Homo sapiens: one gene and its partner. The protein of the gene in region 1 purifies or fractionates together with the protein of each later gene. This does not show direct contact. Each region holds a gene or a part of one and is shown in the gene's direction. Other genes may lie near its edges.

Region 1 (3,656 bases):
TCCCTGCAATGAGCCTTCGCTCCTCCTCTTCCCTTGCAGGGATGCCCTCCGCAGCTGAAATGCCACCCCTCCAGGAAGATTTCTCTGACTCTCCCCCAACCCTTTGAGCTGTTTGTGCCTCTTCTCAGTTCTTGTCTCACCAGATTTGTACCTTTCTCGTAATCTGGACCACAGATGCCTGAGCGTCCTGGCACCCATCTCACTAAATGGCAACCATGTCCTTCCCATTGATCAAACCAGAAGCCTTGCAGACCCCTCACCTTTTCCACTCTTCCCTCCTATCCCACATGCAAACCATCATTAAGCCCTGGCAGCTCAACTTCAGAATATATCCCAAATCTGCCACTCCTCACGGTCTCCTCTCCAAATACCCAACCCAAGCACCATCAGTTCAAGCCTGGGTTATTAGAGTAGCCTTCAAACTGATCGTTCTGCTTCCACTTTCACCCTATCCTATTTCCCACCCCGATTGATCTACTTAAAATATAAATCAGATCATGACACCCGCCCAAAACCTTCCTGTGGTAGACAAATAGATTGACAAAACAGGATAGAGTCCAGAAATAGATCTACATACACAGAGTTCATTGATTTTTGCCAAAGACCCCCAAGGCGGTTCAATCAGGAAAGAGAAGTTCTCTTAAAAAATGACCCTGAAACAAATGAATAGGCATAAGGAAAAATTAAACCTGGACCCCTGCCTCGCACACACACAAAAATTAATTTGAAATGAATCATAGATTTAAAAGTAGAAGTCAGCATCATGAAGCCTCTAGAACAAAACATAGCCTTTGTGATATTTGTGTAACAAAGGTTTCTTAAAGTGGTCACAAAATAAAAACTAAATAAAAACTAAATGATAAATTGAATTTGGTAAATTGGACTTAATCAAAAATTAAATCTTCTGCTCTTACAAAGATATCCTTGAGAAAAAAGAAAAGCAAACTATAGAATGAGAGAAAATACTCTCAATACATATATCTGACAAAGCATTTGTAACCAGAATATATAAAGAACTATGACAAATCAATAATGAAAGACTACCCAATTTTTTAAAAAAGAAAATATACAAATGGCTAATAAACATGTAAAAACCTACACTACATTATTAGTTATTAGAGAAATGAAGATTCCAACCTCCATGAGATACCATTTCACATCTATTAGAGTGGCTAAAATTTTAAAAACTGACAATACCAGATGTTGACAAGAAGGTAGAACAATCAGAATTCTCATGCTTTGCTGACTGCAGAATAAAATGGTACTACTACTTTGAAAAACTGGCAGTTTCTTACAAAGATAAAAATATTTCTGTTCTTATGACCCAACGATTTCACTCCTAGGTATTTACCCAAGAGAAATGAAAACATATGTCCACAGCAGCTTTATTCATGGCAACAGCAAAAACAACAGAACTGTAAATAATCTAAATGTCCATAATTAGAAAAATGAATAAACGTATTTGTAGTATATTCATATAACAAAATACTTTTTATCAATACAAATGAATGAACTCATGATACCTGCATTAGCATGGATGGAGCTCAAAAACATGTTGATCAGGCTGGGCACGGTGGCTTACACTTGCAATCTCAGAACTTTGGGAGGCCGAGGCAGGTGGATCACTTGCAGCCGGGAGTTTGAGACCAGCCTGGCCAACATGGTGAAACCTCGGCTCTACTGAAAATACAAAAATTAGCTGGGTATGGTAGCTCATGCCTGTAGGCCCAACTACTTGGGAGGCTGAGGCAGGAGAATCCCTTGAACCTGGGAGGTGGAGGTTGCAGTGAGCTGAGATTGCGCCACTGCACTCCAGCCTAGGCAATAGAGTAAGACTCCATTTCAAAAAAAAAAAAAAATGTTGATCAAAAGAAGCCAGATGACAGAGTACTCACTGTGTGAGTCCATTTATTTGAAATTCTAGAACAAAAAATAAATATCCATTGATAGAAATGGGAACAGTGTTGGCCTATGAAGAATGGAAATTGACTGGAAGGAGGCCTCTGCTCGAGTCCTCTACTCAGAGGGTCCTTCCTTGAACACTCTATCTAAAGCAGCCTCTTCCTCCTGGTTCCTTCCACCCCTTCTCTTGCTTTGTTTTCTTACATAACTCATTTCCACCTACAAGTATATTCTATATTTGCTTATTGTCTGAATCGCCCACAAGGTAGGAATTGAGATTTGGTTTTAGATGTAATGGCAGTCAGGTGAACTGGCTTGAACAATTCATTCTTCATATATGTTTTAACTGTGATAAAATTTACATATTGGGAAATGCAGGTCCTTCAGTGCACAATTTGACAGATTTTAATAAATGTGAATGCTGGTGTAACCACCACCTCAACCAAACTCTGCGCATTCCCATCACCCACTAGAATTTAAATGGCACATGGGCAGGGTCTTCTTTATCCGCCTAGTTCACAGAGTACAGGGCTCAGAACAACCCCAACATAGTTCTTAATAAACAACTGTTTAATAGTTAATTAATTAATGCTTTTCTAGGTTGTTGAGAAGATTAAGTAAGGCAGTGCATACAAAGTGCTTATAGTGACAGGCAGAGGAAATATTCAGGAAATATAAGCTACTGTTATTATTCATCATAGTATCCCCAACAGTGACCGGGAATAGTGACCACCACAAATTAGGTGTACAATAAAGAATTAGATGGATAGAGCAAATGAAGAAATGGATGGGTAAGCAAATTGGTAGGTTTATGGGTAGGCACTTGGATGGATTGTTGGATGTTTGAATAGATGAATGAATAAAATGAATGCTTGGATGGATGGAAGGATGGATGGATGGATGGATGGATGGATGGATGGATGGATGTTTTGATGGATGGATGGATATTTGGATGGATGTTTGGAGGGATGGATGAATGGGTGGATGTTTGGATGGATGGATAGATGGATGGATGGATGGATGGATGTTTGGATGGGTGGATGGAGGGATGGATGGATGAGTGTTTAGATGGGTGGATGGAGGGATGGATGGATGAGTGTTTAGATGGATGAATGGATGGATGGATGAATGGATGTTTGGATAGATGTTTGGAGGGATGGATGAATAGATGGATGTTTGGAAGGATGGATATTTGGATGGATGGATGGATGGATGGATGGATGGATGGATGGATGGGTGGATGGATGGATGGATGGATGGATGAGTGGGTGAATGGGTGAGTGATTGTCTTAGAAAGCATCCAGAATTCCTAGGGGAAACTTAGAGGAGCTTTTCCTTGAGATTCCACAGTACTATCCTTGCATCAGGATGCTCAGGACAGGTAAGGAAGGCAACTTATATGTCCAGGATCTTTTTCATTCCCTGAGCAGATAGACATCACTTTACATTTCACATTGCAGTCTTATCTCCCTCCTCCATTGTCATTTTCAGAGTATTTCCTCAAGCAGGGTGGTAGCCTATTCTCCCCATTTACAAGTTAGAAAACTGAAGCCCAACAAGTTGAAATGACTCATCCAAGTCATGCAGCCAGAAAGTAGAGGGCTAGGTGTCAATCCTGGGTCTCTGGACTCCTGCTCTTTCTCTACGTCCAGGGCTTGAGAGGCAGGAAAGTCCGGAGACTAAGAGCATTCCTTTCGGGCACTCTCAGCCATTGTGGTCTAGAAGCAGGCAAGGGGGTGTAGGTTTTGATTGTC
Region 2 (3,656 bases), on another chromosome or scaffold:
TAGACCTGTGGGGGTGGAAAAGGCATTCCAAGAGGAGGGAGTCGCATGTATAAGTGAGGAGGTAGGTTTGTGTAACCACATGGCTTGTTTGGGTAACTACCTGGAGTTTGCTATATTGCAGCAATATCAGGCAGTGCAGCCATAATGAGAGTTTGGAATTAGGGCAGTAATGACTGTGGTATTACGGGAAAATTGGCATTTTTCTGCCACTTGGGAAGATGTGTTCGAAGCTTTGATACCCTTTGAAAGCTAAGGAGGGCAGTAAGGAATTAAGGGGAGGAGCTGAATGTCCCTCCCAATCTAGAGGTTGTGCTGTCCTGCAGGTAAGTCTTGACTGGAGCTGGGGACGACATGAGGTAATACAGTACATGAACCTGTCCGGGGCAGGCTGTATCAGTGCTGCCAAACTTCAGACCTAAATGTCCTGTCTTAGTGATTCTCAAGGGATAACTGGGTAATTACCATGTCTCTGAAGAGGGGTAAATGTGATTTCTATTTTGAAAGTGGAGACCTTGCTTTCATAATACAGTTGCTGTTGGCCTTCCATTTCTATGGGTTCCCTATCCATGAATCCAGTTGTAGATAAAAAATACAATAATAAAAAATAATACAAATAAATATAACAACTATTTACATAGCATTCACATTGTATTAGGTATTGTGAATAATCTAGAGATGAGTTAAAGTATCCAGAAAATGTGCATAGGTTATTTTTTTATTTGTTTGAAGGGGAGTTTCACTCTTGTCACCCAGGCTGGAGTGCAGTGGCACAATCTCAGCTCACTGCAACCTCTGCCTCCCAGGTTCAAGCAATTCTCCTGCCTCAGCCTCCTGAGTAGCTGGGATTACAGGTGCCCGCCACCATACCTGGCTAATTTTTGTTTTTTAGTAGAGACAGGATTTCACCATGTTGGCCAGGCTGGTCTTGAACTCCTGTCCTCAGGTGACCTGCCCACCTCAGTCTCCCAAAGTGCTGGGATTACAGGCCTGAGCCACGGCGCCCAGCCTTGTTTTGTTTTTGAGACAGTCTCTGTTGCCCAGATTGGGGTGCAGTGGCGCAATCTCGGCTCACTGCAACCTCCTCCCAGGTTCAAGTGATTCTCCTGCCTCAGCCTCCAGGATTGCAGGTGCACGCCACCATGCCTGGCTAATTTTTGTATTTTTAGTAGAGACGGGGTTTCACCATGTTGGCCAGGCTGGTCTTGAACTCCTGACCTCAAGTGGTCCATCCAGCTCGGCCTCCCAAAGTGCTGAGATTACAGACGTGAGCCACCGTGCCCGGCCTGTGCATAGGTTATATACAAATTTTATATAAGAGACTTGAACATCTGGAGATGTTGATATCCAAGGGGGAACCCTGGAACCAATCCGCCTCAGATATCGAGGGACAACTAAACGGTACGAGGTGATACTAAGTTATAGTAATTTTTAAAAACCACTTTTTTGAGGTATGATTGGCATATATAAAGGTGTATATTTAGTGTATACAACTTGAAGAGTTTGGAGATTGTTAAAGTAATTTTTAACTGGGGGGCACCCCTGGAAGGGGGAGAGTGGTATTTATACTATTGGGTTGAGGGAGGATATAAGTTTCTTAAGAGTTAAAAAAGTTTTTGCCAGCTTAATGGTAAGCTATAGAAAGGCAGGGGTTAATGGCAGCTAAGGGGGCTACAGTTTGACCTGAGGGGCTTTGCCCTTCCCTGCCCTTCCACCTCATCCCAGTGTGGCTGGGACAGGGCTGCTGCTTGCAGGCCTGGTATCCTAGAGCCCATCATGTGTCCTCAGAGGGGTGTCAGGAAGCAGCCAGAGCCCTGGGACCACTGGGTGGCTTGAGGTCAGCCCTCCCTGAGATGTGGGTGAACAGGTGCTTAGACTTGTGTGGATGGAACGGGGAGGGGGGTGTGGGAGGTGGGGGATAAGGCACTCTAGATGAGTGCGAGGTAATTCCTGGATCCAGTGTGCTATTTGGGCACCTCCCTTTTCTTTAACATCAATAGCATTTGAAAGCATCTGGGACATCTTGGTCTGCAGGCTTTTTTTGAATATGAGGGAATGGAGGCTTCTCTGTTTCTGGGCACTCACCTAGAAGCCCTGCCAGGCATATAGCAGTAGGAGGTCAGGTTCCCCTCCTCACTGGGAGTTATTGTGGATGTGTCCCCTCTGCCTAAGTAATCTAAGGGAGAGGCTGTACTAATAATAATGAACCTGTATGTTGTATTTATGCCAGGCATTGTTATATGTTCTGCACCATTTTAACTCTTAATCTTTGTAAGAGCATTATGAAGTACTTACATTATTATCACCATTTCATAAATGAGGAAAGTGAGGCACAGAGAGGTTAAATAACTTTCATGTAGCTATTAAGTGGGGAGGTTGGGATTTGAACCCAGAGTTTGCTCTTAACCACACAGTATACTGCTATTGTGTTTTATATTAGGGTTTTTGGTGAGACTGGAAGGCAGGGGGAGAAAGGTATCTGCAATTTTCTTTTTTTTTTCTTTTTTTTGAGACGGAGTCTCGCCATGTCACCCAGGCTGGAATGCAGTGGTATGATCTTGGCTCACTGCAACCTCTGCCTCCCAGGTTCAAGCGATTATCCTGCCTCAGCCTCCCAAGTAGCTGGGATTACAGGCGCGCACCACTACGGCCAGCTAATTTTTATATTTTTAGCAGAGACGGGGTTTCACTGTGTTGGTCAGGCTGGTCTCGAACTCTTGACCTCCTGATCCTCCTGCCTCGGCCTCCCAAAGTGCTGGGATTACAGGCGTGAGCCACCGCGCCCAGCCGGGTATCTGCAATTAAAGTTTCTAATGGCTGAGTTTTGGGTGATGCCAACCAGAAGCCCAGAGGCTGACTCCGGACTAGTTTCCTTTGGGCTGGTGGCATCCCAAGATGGGTGATGGGAGCTGTCAGCCCCTGCCAGGAGGGGCCTTTTATCACAGATATGATTTAGAGTTGCCATTGCACGAAGATAATAAACAAACCAAGCCAGTTTTATTTTATTTTTATTTATTTATTTATTTTTGAGATGGAGTCTCGCTCTGTCGCCCAGGCTGAAGTGCAGTGGCGCGATCTCAGCTCACTGCAAGCTCTGCCTCCTGGGTTCACGCCATTCTCCTGCCTCAGCCTCCAGAGTAGCTGGGACTACAGGCGCCCGCTGCTACGCCCGGCTAATTTTTTGTATTTTTTAGTAGAGATGGGGTTTCACCGTGTTAGCCAGGATGGATTTTATTTTTTAAATTCTTTTTTTTTTTTTTTTTGAGACGGAGTTTCGCTCTTGTTGCCCAGGCTGGAGTGCAATGGCGCGATCTCGGCTCACCGCAACCTCCACCTCCTGGGTTCAAGCAATTCTTCTGCCTCAGCCTCCCAAGTAGGGGGATTATAGGCATGTGCTACCACGCCCAGCTAATTCTGTATTTTTAGTAGAGATGGGGTTTCTCCATGTTGGGAGGCCTCGGCCTCCCAAAGTGCTGGGATTGCAGATGTGAGCCACTGCACCTGACCTAAATTCTTTTTTAAAAAATCTATATCCTTACACATCTTGCATATTTTTAAAATTCTTTTTTTTTTTTTTTTTTTTTTTTGAGACGAAGTCTTGCTCTGTCGCCCAGGCTGGAGTGCAGTGGCACGATCTCTGCTCACTGCAAGCTCCGCCT

Evidence for each region. Proteins that work in one complex are often made in the same cells at the same time.
Region 2: the proteins of IGSF21 (region 1) and RBPMS2 purify together in Homo sapiens (affinity purification with mass spectrometry; one large-scale study listed by BioGRID and IntAct). This does not show direct contact.

Annotation. Positions count from the first base shown.
Region 1 is NC_000001.11:18,369,728-18,373,383, forward strand, and holds part of IGSF21 (immunoglobulin superfamily member 21 precursor), read left to right. Parts: intron 1-3,656. UniProt on the Homo sapiens protein: Involved in synaptic inhibition in the brain. Selectively regulates inhibitory presynaptic differentiation through interacting with presynaptic NRXN2.
Region 2 is NC_000015.10:64,769,029-64,772,684, reverse strand, and holds part of RBPMS2 (RNA-binding protein with multiple splicing 2), read left to right. Parts: intron 1-3,656.